Regions from separate parts of the Homo sapiens genome. Here region 2 is linked to region 1. The links come from fine-mapping of genetic effects on gene expression. A gene starts in region 1. The other region holds a variant in brackets. All regions are shown on one strand. Distances are from middle to middle. Region 1 holds the start of TATDN1 (TatD DNase domain containing 1). Region 2 holds the start of LOC105375740 (a long non-coding RNA gene).

The links. PIP is the estimated chance that this variant, and not a neighbour inherited with it, causes the effect. A credible set is the group of variants that fine-mapping cannot tell apart.
Region 2: its variant is the best candidate, but not a certain one, in a credible set for the expression of TATDN1 in whole blood (INTERVAL, PIP 0.84).

The regions. Positions count from the first base shown.
Region 1 is chr8:124,532,795-124,546,040 of GRCh38, forward strand. It overlaps TATDN1 (TatD DNase domain containing 1), which reads right to left and starts at 6,291. Exons shown (of 12, transcript NM_032026.4): 1 at 6,231-6,291. The coding sequence starts at 6,252. It overlaps NDUFB9 (NADH:ubiquinone oxidoreductase subunit B9), which reads left to right and starts at 6,329. Exons shown (of 4, transcript NM_005005.3): 1 at 6,329-6,493; 2 at 10,293-10,485. The coding sequence starts at 6,393. RefSeq lists an enhancer at 6,152-6,221.
Region 2 is chr8:124,564,937-124,576,311 of GRCh38, forward strand. It overlaps MTSS1 (MTSS I-BAR domain containing 1), which reads right to left. Exons shown (of 14, transcript NM_014751.6): 7 at 3,443-3,600; 8 at 2,135-2,242; 9 at 726-823. It overlaps LOC105375740 (a long non-coding RNA gene), which reads left to right and starts at 3,947. Exons shown (of 2, transcript XR_928608.3): 1 at 3,947-3,978. The variant G/A (reference allele first, on the strand shown) is at 3,989.

The DNA of each region.
Region 1 (13,246 bases):
ATTCCCATCACAGAGACCACCACATAGGCTGCATAATGGAAGCCAGCAGAATTTTTGAGAAAGGATCCATTAGTGGGTAAGGGGGTCTCCCTTAAGTCTATATGAGGTGAGAGAAAAGTGTCTGTAAAGACAACACAGTCTTTGGGTGCGTTAATCTCTTATTAAAGGCAAAACGGGGCCAGGTGTAGTGGCTCATGCCTGTAATCCCAGCACTTTAGGAGGCCGAGGTGGGCAGATGACGAGGTCAGGAGATCGAGACCGTCCTGGCTAACACGGTAAAACCCCGTCTCTACTAAAAATACAAAACATTAGCCGGGCGTGGTGGCAGGCGCCTGTAGTCCCAGCTACTCAGGAGGCTGAGGCAGGAGAATGGTGTGAATCCGGGAGGTGGAGCTTGCAGTGAGCCAAGATGGCGCCACTGCACTACAGCCTGGGCGACAGAGTGAGACTCTGTCTCAAAAAAAAAAAACGCAAAATGGTAGCTACATTAAGGAGGTTACAGTAAATTATGGTTAGGTTAGAAGAGGAGAAAAGTATCTCATAGGAGGTCAATCAACTGGCTTAAAGATGCTGAGTGAGGGGACAGGTGCAAAGGGCCTAAATTGAATGAGAAACATATACAACGAGAGGGGATCCCAGGAGTAATTTTTTGGTAGCCTTGATGAGGCCTGAGGGGGTGGCAACTGCCCTCAGTACAGGAAGGAATGCCTTGTGAAACTGGTCAGCTGTCATGGTGAAACTGCAAAAAAGGAGGGGAGCTGGTCCCAATGTCAGGCAGTTGGCTGAAGTCAGCAGAGGAGCAAGTCTTCCAATCTTTGTTTTTCCAGGGCTGGTTTCTGTTCAACTTGTAGGAAAAAAGTCTGGTATTGGTTAGTAAGGAAGGAGACCAGGACCAACCCCTCATCTTGTCATGTTTGGGAATCTTAGTTTTTCATGTTTTTCTGGGGTCTACTTGGTCGAGGGGGGTTCTGTTCAGCCAGTTTAGGGGGCTTAGAATTTTATTTTTATTTCACAGGCACAACCAGCACAGCTGCTTTGGTAAGTCAGTGACATTAAAAAAAGAAATGTGTGGCAGGGCGCGATGGCTCACGCCTATAATCCCAGCACTTTGGGAGGCTGAGGCAGGAGGATCACGAGGTCAGGAGATCGAGACCATCCTGGCTAACACAGTGAAACCCCGTCTCTACTAAAAATACAAAAAATTAGCCGGGCGTGGTAGTGGGCGCCTGTAGTCCCAGCTACTCGGGAGGCTGAGGCAGGAGAATGGCGTGAACCTGGGAGGCGGAGCTTGCAGTGAGCCCAGACTGCACCACTACACTCCAGCCTGGGCAACAGAGCGAGACTCCGTCTCAAAAAAAAAAAAAAAAAAAAAAAAAAAAAAAAAAGAAATGCGCTAGAGCAAGGGATTGGTAAACTAAGGCCCACAAGCCACTGCCTACTTTTGTTTGCCTCTAAGCTAAGAATGACTTTACATTTTTAAATAGTTGAAGAAAATCAAAAGAATATTTTGTGACACATCAAAATTATAAGAACTTCAAGTTTCAGTGACCGTAAGTTTTACTGGAACATAGCCACACCTATTTACATACTGTCTATCACCTGCTTTTGAATGACAAGGTGTGAGATAGGAAAAAATGCAAACTGCTTTCTCCTACAGTATTCTCATACTCACAATACTCTGAATTTTTTGTTTGTTTGTTTTAAGTAGAGATGGGGTCTCACTTTGTTGCCCAGGCTGGTCTTGAACTCCCGGGCTCAAGCAGTCCTCCCACCTTGGCCTCCCAAAGTGCTTGGATTACAGGCGTGAGGATTCACTTCTGACGTCAGGTATGTGTGGGGTTTCCTCTCCCAACAACCAATTCTCTGACACCAGCTGGGTGACCTATAATTTAACTCAATTCTCACACTATCTACCTGGATATAACATCAGACCGCAGAGGTCAAGGGCTCAGTCCCACAAGACTCTCCCCATTTCAGATACCAATTACAAGCAGTAGGTTCCCAGGTTACCCACAACTTGTCTAACTTGGCTACAATAAGAGGTTCCCACAACCCCCTTCTCAGGTTTGATCATTTGCTAGAGCAGCTCACGGAACTCAGGAAAGCACTTTACTTATTACCCATTCATTGTAAAAAGATGCCATTCAAAAACGGCCAGGTGGAAGAGACACATAGAGACATGTATGGGTTTTTATAGAGGCTTCACCATGTAGGTATGATTGATTAAATCACTGGCCATTAGTGAACAACTCAACCTTCAGTTTCTCTCCCCTTCCCCAGAAGTGGGAGTGGGTGGGAGGGACTGAAACTTCCAACTCTCTAATCACATGATGGGTTTTCCTAGGCAAACCCCCATCCTGAGGCTATCCAGGAGCCCCCAGCCATCAGTCATCTTAGCAGCATACAAAAAGACACTTAGCACTTAGGAGATTCCAAGGGTTTCAGGAGTTGTGCACAAAGAAATGGGAGCAGAGAACACACACGTATTTACTATTACATCACAGTACACAAAAGGGCAGAGTTGAATAGCTGCAATAGAGATCACGTGGCCCTCAAAGTCTAAAATATTTACTATATGGCCCTTTAAGGAAAAAGTTTGCAAACCTCTGCACTTGATTCAAAAATTTAAGGAACAACCAAATGTGTGGCTCTAAATGGGATACCATTTTGGACATGACCACCAAGGGACATTTTTGGAACAACAGGAAAAATTTGAGTATGATTTTGGTACTAGTTAAGATGAACATTTCCTGAAATGGAAAGGTGGAGACTGTGATTGAAAAAAGCAGAGCACAAAAGAGTAGCCTCAGTATGATCTTATTTTGTTTGGTATGCCTACAGAAGATCTGGAAAGATAGACATGGTGGTGTTATGTGTGATTTGGAGGAACTGTATTAATCTGCTTTTGCATTGCTATAAAGGAATACCTGAGACTGGGTGATTTATAAAGAAAAGAGGTGTATTTGGCTCATGGTTCTGCAGGTTGTACAAGATGCATGACACCAACATCTGCTTTTGGGAGGATCTCAGTAAGCTTCCAATCCTGGTGGAAAGGGAAGGGGAGCCAGTGTGAACTCATTACCACAGGGAGGCCATCAAGCCTTTCATGAGGGATCCACCCCCATGAGATGGATGTTGGGAAGTGACCCAAACACCTCCCACTGGACCACCTCAACATTGGAGAGCAAATTTTAACATGAGATTTGGAGGGGACAAATATCTAAACTATATCAGGAATGGAATATGATGTTTTTATTTTCACTGTTGTTTGTATTTTGCATTTTCTTCTTGCACAGATATTTCTCATTTTTTGGTGTACTATGTAGTCTAAGATCAATGCAGTAGAGATTCTGGCATATAATAGTTACAGGTAGAAGTATTTTTGAGAGTGGAAGAGTTTGTAAATAACACCCAGGGAATAGAATTCCACTTGTGGAGACAGAAAAGAGAGTATAAGCTGGGCTAAAGAAATTCTCATGCTGGCCAGTGGCTCCACGTGTAATCCCAGAACTTTGGGAGGCGGAGGTGGAAGGACTGCTTAAGGCCAGCAATTCAAGACCAGCCTGAGCAACATAGCAGGACACAGTGGTCTACAAAAAAAAATTAGCCTGGTATGGTGGTGAGCACCTCTAGTCTCAGCTACTTGGGAGGATGAGGCAGGAAGATCACTTGAGCCTAGGAGGTCAATGCTGGAGCCATGATCTAAGCCACTGTACTCCAGCCTAGGTGACAGAGCAAGACCCTGTCTCAAAACAAACAAAAACCCCCACTGTTGGGGTATAGTTCTAAGGGGCAGCCACTTGTTATGCAAGTAGAAAAGAGAGAAATGTAGAAAGAATTACAATGGTCAGCTGTCTTAAACCAAAATCTAAGGTAATTTTCATAAAATGGGTTCAATTTTTCATGCAATTGTCCCATGTGAAGCTTGTTCCAGGGATTTAATATGATGTTTTTCAAAATATTGTTCAGAACTCATTATTAGGCTAAGAAATTAGTCTAGCGATTCATGGGCAGAATTTTTTAAATGACACAAACTGAAAGATTAAATATCAGAGTAAGTCATATACCAAGGATAGAATGCATAATATGATCTCATTTCTGTTTCAAAAGGAAAAAAAAAAACCTTGATATGTTGTATTTTTATGAATCTGTATAACAATCTATTAAAAAATTAGGGAAGGCTATACTTCAAACTTTTAATATGGTTACTTTAGGAGAGTGGGGCTAAAGGAAACCATACAGAAAAAAATTTATTTCAATTATTTATTCCAATAAAGTCACCTTCTTTAAGAAGTCTTTTCTTGCTTATTTTATCTGATGCTAATCCCTTTACTAATTTTCTTATCACCTTAGCACTAAAGCCACTCATTCATACTTTCCCAAACAGTCATTGTACTACGCCCCTAGGAAAAAAATATAAATACCATACCAGTATCTGCCTTAAGAGTTTGATCTAGTGGGAAAGGCATACTCATATTTAATTATAAATAATGTGGTATAAGTTTTAAGGAGTGAGTAGGCAGACAGGCAACAGGGTAGTTGGTAGGCAGAGGAATATTTTGGCCCCAAACTGCCACTCTAAAACCTTGTCAGAGGTAACAAACAGCATGCACAAGTGTTTATAGAGCAGCCCAGGGATGGGCTAGAAAAGTGGGCAGGACTGGACCACAGAAGGGCTTTGTATGGTGTGTAAGCATTTAGGCTATCCTGAGGAGCGTAAATGAAAGATTTGAAGCAAAAGAAACATTTAGCTGATTTGATTTTTAGATACACCAAAATGGAGTCTACATGGAGGATGGATTTAAGACATTAACTTGAGGCAGGAATTTGGTTGTATAACATAAACACACTTTTAAAAAGTTATGTGGCCTTTCTTTACGGAGTACTTCATGGCTCTTTATTCCATCTCCCTCATCAATTATATCAAAGGTTAGGATGGAAAGGCTAAGACACGGCAATGTCTTATTTGACAACCCCTCCCCAAACCCCTACTCCAGGCTTTCCCACAGCAATTTCAAAACCTTTTTCCTGGCACTTAACATATTCTCCCCTGCATTTGCTTTTGACTGTACAGTACATAGGTCTTAGGTCTCCAGTCTGAAAACTGCACCACTAGATTTTACAGTTCCACAGGACTTAGCACAACGTCTTTGAAAAAAAAAAATACTGCTTAAATAACTCTCAGATCTAAATGTATAATCCTAATCTCTTGATTGCCAGACCACATTCCCAATTGCCCAGATATCTCTACCTGGATGTCCTATAATTATCTCAAACTTAACCTAATCCAAATGGACCTGGGTACCTCTCTTCACCGCCAAACTAGTCATGCTTCCATTTCATATTTAAGTACTTTTCCAAACCCTGAGTCATCTTTGTTCACTCTCTACTACCGGCCATGAACACTCAGCTGCTAAATGCTGCACACATCTCTTCCATTTCTCTCTCTTTTCCATTACCCTAGTTTAAGCTCTTGAAATGCTTCCCTACCTCTCCCTATTTCCCACAAAACCTACATAATAGCTATCAGGATTACCTTGCTAAAGCAGAGGTGTGATCACTGTCATTTCCCACCTTCAGGTAGCTGGAAACCCCACAAAACGAGGATCATGCCCATTTAAATCCCGCAGCATTCTCCCTCTCGTTCTACTGATGCCGACTGGATCATTGTACTTGCCAAGTACAGTTTGTTTTTCTCCCCATTACTTGTGTTTTCTAGTTTCTCCACCAGATGGTGATGACAGTACAACTGGGAGCTTTGTGCCCTGTGTTCCTAGGCCAGTGCCAGGCCCACTTGAGGCGCTCACTAACTATGATATGAACGAATGAATGCTTGAGTGAATTGGTCCCCAGAAGCGGTCAGCCTCTCCGCCAAGGCAGAGGGGAAGGGCCGGGAGGTGCACGTGGGATGAATGGAAACATAGTGATTGGCCTTTTTGGAGTTTTCTTCTTAAAAAACTGAATACATTACAGATGTTGAAAACAGCACAAAAATCATAACTGTACGGCTTGTTAATTTTTACAAATAAATACACCCTCGTGAATCCAGAACCTAGATCAAGAACCAGAGCATTACCAGCACCCAGAAACCTCCCCGCGCCCTCCTCCACTGAGCGGCCCTTTCAACCCTTACAATGCCGGAGGGCGCAATTCCTGGGTCCTGTGACCTTGGTGACCGACGCCCGGGACAAGTCAGAAAGACCCAAGGGCGTGGAAAACGCTCCTCTTACCGATAAACTTGAAGCGACTCATGACTGCGCATGGAGGACCTCCCCAGCGGAAGCGGAAGTGGCCGCCGGCAACTCCGCCCTTCCGGCTGGCCCCGCTCAGTCACCCGCAGCAGGCGTGCAGTTTCCCGGCTCTCCGCGCGGCCGGGGAAGGTCAGCGCCGTAATGGCGTTCTTGGCGTCGGGACCCTACCTGACCCATCAGCAAAAGGTGTTGCGGCTTTATAAGCGGGCGCTACGCCACCTCGAGTCGTGGTGCGTCCAGAGGTAAGGGATGGGGACCCAGGACTCGGGGAGGTGACCCTCGGGGCCCCATGGAGGTGGAGAGGCCCCTGGGTACCTGGAGGTTCAAGGACTTCGGGAACGGAATTGGAAGGTGGCCTCTCGCTTCACAGAATCCTATGGTAGACCCGGGTTCAAATCCAGGCTTCGCCACTTATGGCCGGGAGACCTTGTAGAGTTGCTTGTCGGGTCTGGGCGTCAGCTTTTTGTTTAGTAAAACGGACGCACGACCAGCGCAGAGGGTCGCAGGAAAATTAAGTGAAATAAAGGAAAGTGCCTAAAATTGTAATTGTCATGGGTCCAGCGCTCGCTCAATCGTTTTCTTCACGATCTTCTCCTTTCCAATATTAACAGCAATAAACTATGCATTATTTTCTTCAGTCTGCAAAACTCTAGGAGTTAGGAATTATCTTAAGCTTATTTTACAGATAAGAAGATGAGCACAGCTGGTAACTTGCGCAAGGTGATAGAGTTTCTAAGTGTCTGAGCCAGGGTTAAAATTTAGGTCTTTCTCCAAAGCATCATCATTCTCCCACCCCTCCCATTAGCTTTTCTCTTTTTAGCTTCATCTAGTCCTTTTCATTACCTTTACATCTTTTTCACCTCTTACATAATTCTCTTTCGACCTCTATCCGTCTGAGACTAGTCTGAGAACATAGTGTTAAAATGTGTAGATTTTAATCACCTAAATTCATTGCAGGGTGGGCTAACAACCCAAGATGTGTGAGTGCCTCGCCTCCACTCCAGTCTTACGACTCTCCAAACGTAGTTTTATAAGAAGGCCTTCTGGGAAAAAAACTCTATGGAAAATGGAGTAGGCCTGGAAGAATTACAGAGGGTACCCTCGAAGCCCAGATTGCATATATGTGACTATTAGAAAATCACTGACATACTTCTCTTGATTTGGCAGGAAGATGGCCAAGTACAATGTGATGGGATTGTTAGTTTCTTCCTTGAGTTTTCCTTATTTATTTATTGATTTGACAGAATTTGCAATTCAGATTCTATGCTCTATGCTAAATATATAAATGTTAGTAAATCCATTTTTGAGCAGCAGCAGCTCACGGATTAGTGGGGAAAATGGACATGTAAACAAATCGATGATGAAGGAAGTTGAGCCATCAGGGATTCAGGTATCCCAACACAAATGGTAAATGTTTGAGGTGATGAATATCCAAATTACCCTGATTTGATCATTATACATTATATGGATGTATTAAAATATCACATGTACCCCATAAATAGGTACAATAATTATGTGTCAAAAAAAGTTAAACATGAAAAAAAGAATTCAAGCAATACTGAACTATAGCTGGGAATACTAAAGTCCATAGTTCTAGAGGAAAATGATATAAACTAGCTACTATGACAGTTATGGCTCAGCATTTTTTAGATCTGACATTCTTTCTCAATCCTTGCCTTAATTTCTTCCTCCATTTGCCCTCATTGTGCTGTTCTCTGTGGTTCCATCCTAGGCATACTGTGTTGTTGTATGTACTCGGGCAGCCTCATTTAGTGCTGTCACCACCTGCGCTCATTTGTCTCTAGAGCTGTAGTTCGAATTGCTTGTTAGATCACGACTGTTGGCTGGGCATGATGGCTCACGCCTATAATCCCAGTACTTTGGGAGGCTGAGGTGAGTGGATCACCTGAGGCCAGGAGTTCAACAGCCTGGCCTACATGTGAAACCGCGTCTCTACTAAAAATACAAAAATTAGCCAGGCGTGGTGGTGGGTGCCTGTAATCCCAGCTACTCATGAGGCTGAGGCAGAAGAACCGCTTGAACCTGGGAGGCAGAGGCTGCAGTGAGCCGAGATAGCCCCATTGCACTCCAGCCTGGGCGACAAGAGTGAAACTTTGTCTCAAAAAATAATAATAAAAAAAAAATTGAAAAGATCACCAACCGTTCTCTCAATCTCCATTTATCTAAATTCTTTGAAATCAAACTTGTTTTCCTGTCACTCCCCATTCTGACTCTTTTCCCAAATTCCCTGCCTCCGCTAATGGTATTATTAGTAATTCAGTTACTGAGCTTTAAGTCTCAGAATTGTTCTCAAGTATTTGCTCCTTATTCCTTTGCCAATAACACACATACTCATACACCATGTATAATTAGACACTGGTTTTTATAAATTCTCTTTCCAGTATGATATTAGTAACTGACATTATTTAACACTTGGGATGTACCAGGCACTTTTTAAAGTGTGTTTATCTTATTGACTGTTTATGACAACCTTAAGATATACACACTGTTATTGCCACTGTTTTACAGAGGAGGAACCCGTGGCCTAGAAGACTTTTTTTGTTTGTTTTTTTGTTAGACGGAGTTTCGCTTATGTTGCCCAGGCTGGAGTGCAGTGGCGCGATCTTGGCTCACCGCAAGTTCCGTCTCCCGGGTTCAAGCAATTCTCCTGCCTCAGTCTCCCGAGTAGCTGGGATTACAGGCATGCGCCACCACGCCTGGCTAATTTTTGTATTTTTAGTAGAGACGGGGTTTTGCCATGTTGGCCAGGCTGGTCTTGAACTCCTGACCTCAGGTGACCTCCACCTCAGCCTCCCAAAGTGCTGGGATTACAGGCGTGAGCCACCGTGCCTGGCCTTTTTGTTGTTGTTGTTGTTGTTTTTTTTTGAGATGAAGTCTCGCTCTTGTCCCCCAGGCTGGAGTGCAAATGGCACAATCTCGACTCACTGCAACCTCTGCCTCCCGGGTTCAAGCTATTCTCCTGCCTTGGCCCCCAGAGTAGCTGGGATTACAGGTGCCTGCCACCACGCCCGGCTAGTTTTTGTATTTTTAGCTGAGACGGGATTTCACCATGTTGGCCAGGCTGGTGTAGAACTCCTCACCTCAGATGATCCCCCTGCCTTGGCCTCCCAAAGTGCTGGGATTACAGGCGTGAGCCACCATGCCCGGCCTCATTTTTGTATTTTTAGTAGAGACGGGGTTTCTCCATGTTGATCAGGCTTGTCTTGAACTCCAGACCTCAGGTGATCCACACGCCTTGGCCTCCCAACGTGCTGGGATTACAGGTGTGAGCCACCGCACCTGACCAGAAGACAGTAACTTACCCCAAGTTACACAGCTAGTAGTGGCAGAGCTAAGATTCAGGCCCATACAGTCTGACTGGAGAGCCTATTCTCATAACTTGGAAGTCTCAATGTCTCCCCTGTCTCCTGTCACCATCACAGCTCCGTACTTTCAGGCCCTCGTCAGCTGTGTCCTAGATTATTGTCAAAACCTCCTAACTGATCTTTGCCCAGTTTCTTTAGAACTTGACTTTAACTTGCCTAAGTTTATGCAGCTAGTGTCAGAGTCAGGATACAAACCTAGCTCTGTATGAGCTAAGCAATACTGTTTCTGCCAAGTAACACCTTTCTTATTCATCTTTGTATCTCCAGAATTTAGCATAGTGACTAGCACAAGATAGAAGGAAATGGAAGTTGTCATTCAATGAATGTTGAATGATCCTGCAGAGGTTATAGCTTTTCTCTTGCGAATGCTCTTTTCTTTTTTTTTTTTTTTTTTTTTGTTTAAATCCTCATTCCATTGTTGGATGTAAGAGGAGAAAAATGGTTAGGGTATATATTTAATACAGTATTTTTTTGCTGCTGCTGTTTGGTGGGCTGTAGAGGAAGCAGCCATGATGATACGGCTGCTCCATTGGGAGGGTTGGGGTAGGTCCACTGCCCATCCAGAAGGTATCAGAAGTGCAGCCTCCTGTCAGACAGCAACACTGACCACGTGAGTAGGTAACATTTCTAATCTTCAAAATCATTTTGGTTTAAGAGACAAATACCGATACTTTGCTTGTTTGATGAGAGCCCGGTTTGAAGAACATAAGAATGAAAAGGATATGGCGAAGGCCACCCAGCTGCTGAAGGAGGCCGAGGAAGAATTCTGGTACCGTCAGCATCCACAGCCATACATCTTCCCTGACTCTCCTGGGGGCACCTCCTATGAGAGATACGATTGCTACAAGGTAGGTGAGAATTATGATGACTGCCTTCTGAGAAATAGACTTTGTTTCTTCAGTCCCACACCTCAGCCTCAGAAATCACTTGCCCTTCAAGGGGTAGCTAGGAGACTTATTTCCTGACAGTTGTCAGATGCAGGCCTACCTCATTTTATTGCATTTTGTTTTATTGTGCTTGGCAGATATTGTATTTTCACAGATTGAAAGTTTGTGGCAACCCCGTGCTGAGCAAGTCTGTGGGCACCATTTTTCCAACAGCATGTGCTCACTCCCTGTCTCTGTTTCTCAGTTTGGCAATTCTTGCAATATTTCAAACTTTTTTTTATTATTACTCTATCTACACACAGTTGTGGTGAACTGTGATCAGTCACCTTTGATGTTACTATTGTCATTGTTTTGGGGCACAAAAAAACCATGCCCACATAAGACAGCAGACTTAATCGATAAATGTGCGTGTGCTGACTGTTTCACCGACCAATAGTTCCTCCGCCTCTATCCCTCTCCTCAGGGTTCCCTATTCCCTAAGACGCAGCAACAGTGAAATTAGGACAATTAACGACCATACCATAGCCTCTAAGTGTTCAAGTGAAAGGAAGAGTTACATGTCTCTCACTTTAAATCCGTTACACGTCTCTTCCTTTAAATCAAAAGCTAGAAATGATTAAGCTTAGTGAGGAAGGCATGTTGAAAGCCAAGGTGGGTAGAAAGCAAGGCCTTTTCCGCTGGTTAGCCAAGTTGTGAATGCAAAGGAAATTAAAGGTTTTTTTAAGGAAATTAAAAGTGCTGCTCCACTAAACACACAAATGATAAGTGAAACTGTCTTATTGCTGATATGGAGAAAGTTTTAGTGGTTGGGACAAAAGATCAAACCAGCCACGACATTCCCTTAAGCCAAAGCCTAATCCAAAGCAAGTCTTTAACTCTTCATTTCTATGAAGGCTGAGAGAGATGAGGAAGCTGCAGAAAAAAAGTTGGAAGCTAATAGAGGTTGGTCCATGAGGTTTAAGGAAAAAAGCCATCTCTGTAACACAGATGTGCAAGGTGAAGCAACAAGTGCTGATGGAAAAGCTGCAGCAAATTATTACACAAAATCTGGCTAAGATAGTTGATGAAGGTGGCTATACTTAACAACAGATTTTCAGTGGAGATGAAGTAGCCTTTTTTTGGAATAAGATACCATGTAGAACTTTCATACCTTGAGAGAAATCAATGCTTGGCTTCAAAACTTCAAGGATAGGCTGACTCTCTTGTTAGGGACTAATGCAGTTGGTGGTTTTAAGTTGAAGCCATTGTTCATTTGCCATTCTGAAAATCCTGAGGCCCTTAAGAATTATGCTAAACCTACTCTGCCTGTGCCCTAGAAATGGAATAACAAAGCCTGAATTACAGCAAATCTGTATACAACATGGTTTACTGAATCTTTTAAGCCCATTGTTGAGACCTGCTACCATGTCTGCTAACACAACATCCATTCTGCAGCCCATGGATCAAGGAGTAATTTCCACTTGCAAGTTTTATTATTTAAGAAATATATTTTGCATAGTTATAGTTGCCATAGATAGTGATTCCTCTGATGGATTTGGGCAAAGTAAAATTTTCTGGAAAGAATTCACCATTCTAAATGCCATTGAGGATATTTATGATTCATGGGAAGAGATCAAAATATCAGCTTTAACGGGGTTGGAAGAAGTTGATTCCAACCCTTGTGGGTGATTTTGAAGGGCTCAAGACTTCAGCAGAAGAAGTAACTGCAGAAGTTGTGGAAATAGCAAGAGAGCCAGAATAGAAGCTGATCCTGAGAATATGACTGAATTGCTGTAATCTCATGATAAATCTTGAGCAGATGAAGAGTTGCTTCTTATGGATGAATACGAAAGTGGTTTCTTGAGATGGAGTCTCCTGGTGAAGTTTTTGTGAACATTGATGATAACAAAGGACTTCGCATAGCACATCAACTTAGTTGATTAAGCAGTAGCAGGGTTTGAGAGGATTGACTCCAATTTTGCAAGAAGTTCTTCTGTGGGTAAAATGCTATCAAATGGCATCACATGCTATAGAAGTGTTTGGTGTAAGGAAGAGTCAGTTGATGTCGCAAACCTCGTTATTTTAGGAAATTGCCAAAGCCACTCCAGCCTTTGGCAATCATCACCCTGATTAGTCACCAGCCATCAACATTGATATAATACTCTCCACCAGTAAAAAGATTGGTTTTCTGATGGCTCAGATGATTGTTGGCAGTTTTTATCAATAACGTATTTCTTTTGTTTTTGTTTGGGAGATGGTCTCCCTCTGTTGCCCAGGCTGGAGTGCAATAGCATGATCATAGCTCACTGCAGCCTGGATCCCCTGGGCTCAAGCAATCCTCCTGTCCTAGCCAACCAAGTAGCTAAGAAAACAGAGGCACAACACCACACCTAGCTAATTTATTTTATTTTTTGTAGAGATGGAATCTTGCTATGTTGTCCAGGCTGGTCTGGAACTCCTACCCTCATAGAATCTCCCTGCCTCAGCCTTCAAAGGGCTGGGACTAAAGGCAGGAGCCACCTCACCCAACCAATAATGTATTTTTAAATTATGTCTTTTTTTTGGTGGAGGGGGACAGAGTTTTGCCCAGGCTGGAGTGCAATGGCACAATCTCGGCTCACCGCAACCTCCACCTCCCAGGTTCAAGCGATTCTCCTACCTCAGTCTCCCAAGTAGCTGGGATTACAGGCATGTACCACTATGCCTGGCTAGTTTTGTATTTTTAGTAGAGACAGCGTTTCTC
Region 2 (11,375 bases), 31 kb after region 1:
TTGGCTTTGAAAGTTAAATTAAAAGAGTAACAGGACTACTATACCAAGAGAGATAGATGGTACATCATGCTTCCATCTTTCAAGGAGAGGAAAAGAAACTTTCCTACTCGGCAAGCCAAGAACTGACTTCTAACAGAAAATTGCTAGACAACAGTTTTGCAGATGGCAGAACTATTCCAACAGATTTTGTTCCAATAGGGAACAGTACTAATTAATACAGGTGTGGTCGTGGTAGTGGTGGTAGTAGTAGCAGTGACTGACAGAGCAAGAACTCTATTTACTTTATGAAACCCTGAAACAAAAATATGGGGTGAAATGAGGGCATAAGCCATTGTTACTTCCTTCGTTTGTTCTGGCAACAGTGAGATCAGCCTGTGTAAAAATCAACCCAGGTTCACCATTTTTTAGGCCTTAGAAGGTTTTCACTCTGCTAAACAGGAAAATCAAATGTGATCTCATAGAATAGGAAAATCCCTACAACATACAAGTGAGAGAGAATAAGCTACATCCACAAGTCAAGGGCTAATGGGGTTTTCTTTCTGATCCAAAATTAATCCAGAGACTAAAGAGCAAGACCAAAATTATTACCATTCTTTCAGCTCATCATCCCATTTCCTGTTTGAGAATGAGCCATTCTAAGAGATAAGGACTGGCTCCATTGCTCACATTAGCATAAAGAAAAATGACCCGTCCTGAAAGCAAGAGTGGACCCCGGCTTCACTCACCTGCAGACACTGGACTTTCTGGACATGGTGGTGCTGGGGGAAGAGGGTGGCGTCTGATACGACCAGCTGTAATCAGAACCTTTCAAGTCCAGAATCACCTAAGGGGACAGAGCCAGCTGGGTGAATGAGGTGCTGAGAGGGGAAGCGTTAGCCATCAAAGCTTAACATCCACCAAAGCATCAAAACGCTGCCATCGTGGGGGTGGGAATGAAAGCAAAACATGTTAAAAAAATTTTTTTTAAATTGAAGAGCCACAGTACCAAATCCATCAATATCATAATCCTTTTACTGAGAAAGTAAAACTATAATTAATAGGGAGAAGGAAAGGAAGGGAAAAGGAAAATCATGAAATATCAGTCGAGAGAGGGAGAAATACAGTGACCAATTAATAATTTATAACAGCCATTTATACCCAAGGCTAGAATTTACAGGATTTTCCTCTTGTAATGCCATAAAGTTAATCATGGTTCCCAGACTTGTTGGTAGCGCATTTTAACCACTTGATATTCAGTGGTCATTTCTGCCCTATTTGACCAGCACTAGAAATTTTAAAGCCTGACAGAATCAAGAACAAGCCAATTCTTTCACCATTATTTCTATATCTGTCTCCGTTGCTTGACAAAGGACCACATGAGTATAAGGTCCACCTTTCATTCACATAAGAAGCACTCAGTAAATGTTTATTTGTCAAGTGAATGCATGCATGCTCTGGTCTAATAAATATAATTTGATAGAATAGAAAACATGAGCTCCCAAATTTGCCCTCTGAGCCAGCTCTCCAAGGAGACGAAAAGATTGTTACCAAGCACAAAAGCCAGCATGTGATTCATCAGTTCCCCCAAATATGTCTCTTCCCATAGTGTGCGTGTGATGTGAATTAAATGAATAAAGCATAAAAATGTCATCTTTTTCATAAGATGAGAGAGCTCTCCATGCATTGCTCAATTAGAATGGGAGAAATGGAGAATGGTTGACAGTGTCAATCAAAACACACCAGCGACGTGTTCTTAGGAGGGTTGACTTCTAGAGGGCAGATGAACACAGCAATTAAGTGCATGGGATCTGGAACCTGACCAACTTGGTTCAAATATCAGTTCCACTACCTGCTAGCTAGCTGAACCTGGCTAAGTGACTCCATCTCTCAGTGCCTCTGCATCATTCTCTATAAAACAAGCATAATCATGAAGATGAATGGAGGAAGTCAGGCTATGTAAAGAGCTTGGGACAGTGCCTGACACACAATAGGTTCTATGTAACAGCTCGCTGTGGTGATTTCATATATTACATCATGAAGGACGTGGTGAATATGACTACAATTTAAGACGTGACACATGCCACAGGAACACTCAGGGCCTTGAGCTTTTACCTCTTTGGTTTGATCCTGTAAGTGCTTAACCCCTGAAGCCTACCTGTTCACTTGAGGAGGGCAGTTTGTGAGGGTCCATGGTCAGGCTTTTTAGATCTTCCGAGATGGTCTGAAGGTGGGTTATTTCCCCTAGCATTGAGATTTCTTCTTCCTGAAGGAAAAGTCATTCATGAAATGTTATTATCATGAGTGATTCCCTTCATCGCTCTAGTCCAATTGTTTTCATTAGGGTCTCTGTATAACCCTTTCAGTTTTTCAGAAAAGGCACTGTTGGGACTGGCAAATCTTTGCTGAAGGCACTACATGCCTTTTCTTTTGGGAAATGAGATGGAAAAAGAAATCTGCCATAATGGAGGAGTGACCTGTGCACAGGGGACAGTGGGGAACACACAGGCCTCCCTCCCAGGGCCTGGGGGACTGCCAGGCCTGCTCAGATGGTCTGACTGTGTGTTCCCACGGGATCCTGCAGCACAGCCCTCTTCATACTGTGGCCCTTTTCTGAAGTTGCTTAGCTTCAATGGATGACACGACTTGGATATATTTTGGTCCAGATCTTTGTGACAGTGCCTGTGTGTTCAACAGAAGCTAACTTTTCCCCTTCTTTCTTGTGCTTTTCCAGCAACTTAGTAAAAGACAAGTAAGACAGGAGCTGGGGACCATGGAAGAAACATCCCATGTGCTTTATCGAAGTGCCAAGTTGGGACCACGGGCCGGGCTAGAACGATCCATGGAAAAGTTCTGTGCTCAGGGGAACAACTCAAATTCAGACATTTTGCTAGGGCTAAGGGAAATGAGCTGGTACCTTCGAATCAGCTTCCAGAACGCCTGCAGTGCAAGTTCTCAATTACGGCATGCAAATGATTTCCTTAAAAATTAAGTCTAAATTGATTCATTGAGGCTCTTGGATATTCATCTCATGGTCACCCCTTAGTACTCGGCTACAACAGTGAGTCTCAAAACCACCTGGAGTGCTCCTTTAAAACACAGACGACTGGGTCCCCACCCCCAGAGGTTTGGACTTGGTGGGTCTGGGTTGGGCCCAAGAACTTGCATTTCTAGCCAGTTCCCACGTGATGCTGCTGACCTGGGGACCTCACTTTGAGAACCACCCTGCTGGGCCTTCTTGACTTGGTGAGACAAAGTAACGGGGAACAAGTGGTACTAGAACAGTGAATGAGGAGTGAGCTACATGGCCATCAACTTGCACTGAATCGCTGGTCTGTACAGGAGATACCACCATCATGATTCCTGACAGTAGATTCTCCATGACTCAACAGTGGATGGATAAAATTAGAAGGAAGCCACCTCTACACCAGCAGTTTAAACCTTCTGGAGTTTTCCATTAACTTACAATCACTGGCCGCAGCATAGAGATGAAGGTACAGAATCGGCCACGTTCTTCAATCAAAGCCTTCCGGACAGCCTGCTTTTCTGTTTCTTCCAATAAGAGATACTTATCATTGACATCTTGGAGAGCACTGTCCAACTGAGGCTGGATATCACCTCTCCCTGCAAAAAACAGAGACCCAAGCACGGCTTGCTGAAATACCAGCTTCTGGAACAAGTGCCCCTCCTCCCTGGGGTCCTTGCTGGAGTCAAAACCACAATTTTCCAGGATGTAAAAAAAGTATTTATTCATGCCCCAAAAGGATTTAAGGCAGCTGTTTTTCTAGGACCAGCCATTTCCAATTTTCAATGCCCAAAGGGCACATTTAGCCTGGCTTATTCCTGACAAGGAAAATGTCCTGGGGCAACTCTTCATGACTTGCCTTCTCACACTGCACAACCCCCACCAACTCTTCTGCCAACACAACCCTGGAACACAGAGCCAGACAGCATTCTTTCCTTGCAGAACATTCTGAAGAGGCTAAGAGATGTGGAAACAAGGTAAGAGCCT[G/A]TGGGTGTTTCCAAAAACGGGCACGGGCTGGCTTTGTTGGGTCAATCTCAATCAAAGAGCCTCTGTCTGGATAGAAGGATCTGCTCCTAAAGACAAAGGTGGCAAGCATCCGCTCTCCTGGCTCTGGGGGCCCATGGGAATCCTTGGCAGTTCCTTTGACTCTCTAGTGGAGAGTCTTGAATGCTCTTGCTGTAGAACAAGCCCAGTAATAACAAGACCTCCAGACAGGTCTCTGATGATGAAAAACTGAAAGTGGGGTCTATGCGGAGCCTGGCCCATGTTTAGGAATTATCTGGCCAGGTCCACAGACCCCAGTTAGGTGCAGGCAACCACTTCTGGAGTTTAAGACAGGGTGTTAGTCTTTTGAATGACTAACACATGGTCAGCAAACCATCTTTGCAAATAAAGTTTTATTAGAACACAGCCAAATCCATTTATTTACCATATTGCCTGTACCAGTTCTCCCTACAATGGCAGAGTAGTGTGACACAGAGTATGGCCCCCAGACCATGGCCTCTTGCAAAAGAAGCCTGCTGCCCTAAAAGATAAACATGGACCAAGAGGCACTGTGTCCAAAGGAGCAGCTACTACAAATCTGATCTGTAGGTGGGGACAGCAGGGTGACAGCAGGGGACACCAGCTCATGAGCTTCCACCTTGGGCTGCCTATGCAGGGGCCTTACCTATCACTCAAACCAGAGAGATACTTCCTAAACTTCTTCAGGGCAGGATTTTGGTCTTTCCCAGCACAGCCCCTAGTACAATGTCATGTGTGTATACAGCAGGTGCTTGATAAATGTCTGTTTAATAGTTTCAACACAAAATGTTAGAGCTGGAAGGGGTTATCCAATTGGGCCAATCTGCTCATGTTTCAATGGAGACCAAGTCCTAGAGAAGTCAAGGGACTCACCTAAGGTCACAGAAAGAATGGTACAGAGGCAGGGTTGAGCCACACTGCCTAATTCCCTTAACACTGAACCTATTCTCTGCCCCACCGCCTCGCAGGAAGGGCCCTGCAGTTTCCATCTATCCCTCTTAGTGATGTAGAGAACATTAAATGCAATGAACCATTTGGTCTGAAGAAAGAAAGGGTCAGGGAAAATTGCCTTGGATGTAGGAACATATTCTGTATTTTTCACTCATAAGCAGAGGAGAAAGTTTAATTTGGAGCAAGAGGCAATCAGGCTTAAAGCACATCCCAATAGAAAAGGTAGTCAGATTTTAGTAAGGAAAAGTCACTTCTCAGACAGGGAATAAGTTCTAAGTTAGCACATTATGAGAAAATTATAGTCAAAGATCACCCTTGAAAATGCCTTAGATGGCCAGTAAATACAGTATGGACAGCTTTGTGTATATAACTCTCATCAGTCAAGTGAGTACAAATGTGTAGATAGTATGTATCTAAGTCCACGGAGGGGTGCTACCCAACGATTATACTACACTGGCCCCTCCTCTGTGGTTTTGCTTTCCAAAGTTTCAGCTACCCATGGTGTGGTAAAATACGGTATTTTGAAAGAGAGAAAGAGACTACATTCGCATGACTTTTATTACAGTATATTGTTATAATTGTTCTATTATTATTGTTGTTAATCTCTTACTGTGCCTAAATTATGTATTAAACTTTACCATAGACATGTATGCATGGGAAAAACCACAGTATATGTAAGGTTCGGGTACTATCTGCAGTTTTAGGCATCCACGGGGGGTCTTGGAACATATCCCCTGAGGAGAAGGGGGAACTACTATATATAAGAAATTTGCTGCTTGAGAAGTCTCTGCATAATTTTCTCCTTTTTGGAGACAGAGTCTTGCTCTGTCACTCAGGCTGGAGTGCAGTGGAATGATCATAGCTCATTGCAGCCTCAGCCTCTTAAGCAGCTGGGACTACCAGCGTGCACCACCATGCCCAGCTAGTTTTTCAATTTTTTTTTATAAAGATTGGGTCTTGCTTTATTGGCCAGACGGTCTTGAACTCCTGGCCTCAAGTGATCCTCCCACCTCAGCCTCCCAAAGTGCTGGGATTACAGACATGAGCCACAGCGCCTGGGTGTTTCAGCATATTTTCAAGGTGACCCACTCACCCATTCTTCCATGTAGTCACTACCTCCACCCCTCAGAATAATTCTTTACCATGCCTTCAATTTCTTCCTCAAGGATGTAGGAGTAATCATCACCATACATTAATCTGGCCACCTGAGCCACTGGTTTCATGTGTTTTTAGTAGACAAGAAACCTGTAAAAACATTCTCCCATTCTCTCCTGGAATCTGCCTCAGGGCAGGTGCTCTGTTCACAGAGACCCACCACCTGTGGCCAACGGCTTACAGAGGGAAGGCTGGGTGCCACCAGCACTATGAAAACTGTGAGTTTTCTCTTCTATTTTAAAATGCTGGCTAGTGCAAAATTAATCCAGATATACTTAATGTGTGTATGATACGAGTCCACCAGCAGGGAAGCTCTGGAAAGCTGTAAACCCTTGCTTTTCCTCTGCAAGCAGCCAAACAGCATGGCCAATTGTGGGCCTTGTTGGGTCACATGACTCAGGGCTGGTCTAGAGGGCTACTTCTAGTCTCTCGATCTATTCTATGATGTTCTAATAACAAAACACAGAGGGCTGCAGACCACCTCAGAATGTTCTCAACTCTCGTGTAGGATGGTGAACAGAAGTCGGGAGACACCAGATTGAGACACATTGTGTTTGACCAAACTTGCTCGGTGGGCTTTGATTATGGTAGCAATTTAAAAAAATAACAGCCTATGAGGCCGGGAACGGTGGCTCATGCTTCTAATCCCAGCACTTTGGGAGGCCGCGGCGGGCGGATCATGAGGTCAGGAGTTCAAGACCAGCCTGGCCAATATGGTGAAACCCCGTCTCTACTAAAAGTACAAAAATTAGCTGGGTGTGGTGGCACACGCCTGTAGTCCCAGCCACTGGGGAGGCTGAGGCAGAAGAATTGCTTGAACCTGGGAGGGGGAGGTTGCAGTGAGCTGAGATCATGCCACTGCACTCCAGCCTGGGCGACAGAGCAAGACTCCATCTAAAATAAATAAATAGATAAAATAAAATTAAAAAATAACAGCCTGTGATTGTCAGAAATTGGAAAAATGTATCTTTACTTCCTTTCACAAGTTATAAGGCACATGTCTATCCATAATTAATAATGCTGACTTTAAAAACTGTATCTACATAGGAAAGAAAAAAAGGCCACTGAACCCAGTGTTATCTAATTTGGAAAATATAAATTTAAGTTATCCTATGATTATAGCAAAGTTATTTTAAATGTGTATTATAATTAAAGGACTCTCAAATTGTAGCATTCTAAAATAAGTATACTCTGTAAAGATTGCTATAATTATAGTCAAGACATTTCCATTCAGGATAGATGATAAGCTAAAACTACAATGTTTATTTATTAAATTCACTAATACAACATGTAATTATATTTATAAAAAAAAACTGTGAAAGAAATTATTTCATGTCCCAGTTGGATATACTGGTTTTAAGATAGAGTGATCTTTTGAGGTCCACAAATTCAGAGAGTTGTGTTGGTACTGATTTAATATATACAAAAGCCCATTCTCTTCACTCCCATCGGCAGTGTTAGGAGAGTCACCACTGACTCCTTGAGCGCTGGTCCTGGCTATTCCAGCTCCCACGGACTTGACTCCATCCTCGTCTCACCTCTGCTACCTCTACCCTCACTGGGCCATCACGATCTCTCACCTGAACAGATGCCAACAGCCCCTAATGTCTCACCCCAGACTGCACTTGGACTAGCTCGCCCAGAGCAGCCCTGGGCTACTTTCTTTCTTTTCTTTTCTTTTTTTTTTTTTTTTTGAGACAGAGTCTCGCTCTGTTGCCCAGGCTGGATGGAGTGCAGTGGCGTGATCTCAGCTCACTGCAACCTCCGCCTGCCAGGTTCAAGAGATTCTCTTGCCTTAGCCACCCAAGTAGCTGGGATTACAGGCATGTACCACCATGCCCAGCTAATTTTTGTATTTTTAGTAGAGACAGGATTTCACCATGTTGGCCAGGCTGGTCTTGAACCCCTGACCTCAAGTGATCCACCTGCCTCGGCCTCCCAAAGTGCTGGGATTACAGGCATGAGCCACCACACCCGGCTGTGGATTACTTTCAAAATGCAAATATTCTCACTGCTTTTCAACAGCTCCCATTGCTCGCAAGAAAAGAACAATATCCTTAACATGGCCTGCCCTGCAAGGCATGAAAGGTCATTGCCTGTCTACCTCATAGCCTCAGCCTTTGTGGGCCATTCTCTCCCTCTCTCCTCTCCCTCTCATCCTCCAGGGCCTGGGCCCCTTCCCATCTTCACTCTGCTGTCCCTCTGCTACATTCCTAACACCTTTTATCCTACAGGTCTCGCTTAATTCTCGATCCTTCAGGGAATCCTGCTGTGAACTTTCTCCCCAGATTAGGCTTCTCTTACTTGATCTCTGAAATCCCTTATACTTATTCACAGCACTACCCCCGGTTTGAATTTCATCTTTATTTCTCTAGTTATTTGATTGACGTCAGTCTCCCCTAGTCAGGGGGCAGTCCCACGGGGGCAGAACCCATGAATGCTTTTGCTCAGTACTGTATCTCCTCAGTCAGCACACTTGCCTGGAAGGCGGCAGGTGTTCAAATATTTGTAAATGAATCAAGCATTGATACAACGTGACCAAGTTTGCTCACTGGCCTCAACCATCATTCCCTTAAATGGCCTAATACTTCAGAACCACCCAATTCCAGGACCATCAAGCAGCCAAGAGGAGGAGGGAGGGGGTGCCTTCGATGGGCTTCCCAGACAAAATTCTTGAGCAAAGAATTGCTTTCGGCTTTCTTCTGTAATATCTTAGGCATCTTCAGTCTTGAGTTTTGTTTTTTTCCTGGTGCTAGTTTCCAGGTCTTGTGTATTCACGCTGGGGAATTCTGATGAACAGCAGCCAGGAGCCCCTTATCCCCCCACCCCAGGGGATATCATGATGATTCTCTTTGCAGAAAATGTTCCTGGGGCAAAGCATTGTGAATGCACCATGTCATGGGCCAAGGCAGCACCCCTAAAGAAGGAAGGAATTTTTTTTTTTGAGACAGAGTCTCGCTCTGTTGCCTAGGCTGGAGTGCAGCGGCACAATCTCAGCTCACTGAAACCTCTGCCTCCTGGGTTCAAGACAGTATGTCCGACTAATTTTTGTATTTTTTGTAGAGACAGGGTTTTACTATGTTGGCCAGGCTGGTCTCGAACTCCTGACCTTAAGTGATCTGCCTGCCTCGGCCTCCCAAACTGCTGGGATCACAGTGTGAGCCACCACACCCGGCCACAGAAGGAAGGAATTTTTAAATGAGGAAACTTTACAGAGTTTTCTGGAATGAAATAAAGATCCTGTATCAACTTCAACACTTGCATTTTATTTTCCTTAATCATTATTACATAACACATTCAAGGCAGGAATGAATATCCGTTTTGATAGATGGGGAAACTGAGACTGAGGGAGGCAAAGTGGTCTGCACAGGGCCACAATCATGAGCACTAAGCCAGCCACGGGCACAGCTAGAATCCAGCCCCAAGTCTTTCTCGTTCTGAAGACGAGGTTCTTTGTGTTTCCTACTCACAGCAAACATGAATGCTGGGAACAAGCTGCCAGGAGCTAAACAGCCGATCAAAAAGCCAGTGAAATGTGATTCGTATTATCTGTACTGGCCCAGCCTCTTCAGACACAAGCTGCACTCACATGGTAAGCTTCCTGGCTCAACAAGCCAGTGGCTGTTCTCTGGCAAAGGGCTCTCCAACGGGGAAGAGCAAACCCAGAATACATTGGGCCAAGAATGCTGCCAGGAGTCAGCAAAACACCCCAAGTCCTTTCTTTCTTCGGAGAGAGGTGTATGGAGAAGCCATTAGAATCCTGCAAAATGACTTTCACCTGCCCCTGACTCACACAAATTCATTCTAAGATATTTCATTCTAAGAGAGCCACTTTCCCCCATTTTTACACCTCACCAATCAGGGTGTGTCTTACAATCAATGGTGTGTCACAGTTTAATCGGTAGGTTTTTTTTTTCCTTTCTTAGTGGTCTGGAAAATAATGGTGCATCTGACAATTGCTTGTATCCCAGAGTCAAATGAAACATGGGATATAAATACTAAAATACAAAATATAAATCCAGAAATGGACATGCAAGGTGACACTGGAGATTAGAATTTGGAATGAAAAATTCTGTCTTCCCAGCAAAAGGAGGCTATCCTCATTATCCCTTTATAAGTCATCTTCTACTCTTAATAACCCACAGTGGGTTTTGACTGATTCCCAAAAGAAAAATCCAACCCGAAATCAAAAGATAGATGTGATTAGATAAGACTGAAGGCTTTTAGCCTTAAAATTTTTCAAACAAACTCAATTTCCGTTATTTTTCAACCTACTGTGCCCCAGTTTCCCTTTACCTGTGGGATGTAAATAATAACAGTATTGAGCTCACAGGGCTGCTGGAAGGGGAAATGAACTAATCCACATGAAGCATTCAGAACAACGCCCGGCACGTGCTGAGCACTCACTAAATGTCAGGCACTATCAGCTGCCACCACAGCATCTCTGAAGTTGTCCTTCTGACACTGGGTAGTTTAGCAGGTGATAGTATGCAGGGTAGGGTGGGTTTTTTGTTGTTGTTGTTTGTTTGTTTGTTTTTTAAAGAGAGCTTTCAGTTCAAGGTCGTTTTTGATGTAAGAAAATGCAAAAGATCCCATGATTCTTTCACTACAAGTAGGAGTTTTATCATCAAGATTCTTCACTGGTCCCTGGGCAATCAGTTGTTTATCAAAGCAAAGGATAAAAAGAGACATTTCAGAGAACAACTAGAAAACGTCCCAGGCCAACCTGCAGCTCACCATCCAGAGTGTCTCCAACAGAGCATCCTCACGGCTCCAAAATGCTTCTTCCTTGGTGGTTAAAGAAATACTCCACCATCTGCCAACCTGACTACCGGATCCAGAAATTTACCATTGCCTTCAACTCTTCCTTCTTTCATTTGCATTTCTCCTAAGTAGCTCTTGAATCCACCTGTCTTCCTCTCTATCTCTGTGGTCACTTCCCTGAGCCCAGGCCACCATCATCTGTCACCTAGACAACAACCACCACTTGCTAACTGGATGTCCAGTTAAGCCACAGTCTAATCCAAATACACACTGTCACGGTGGAATTATCTAGAAGCCAAAAAGGCTTCAAGGGCTTCAGCAGAGTCCTTTAATGTAGTAAACAAGGCTACAATCTGCATTCTTTATAAGAAGCCAGTCATTGTAAATATGGTGCTTTCCTGTGTTCTGCAAGTCCTTCTAGAGAATTATTAAACTTGATGGGCGAGGGGGTCATAGAAAACCCCAAATTTGTGGTCGGCTG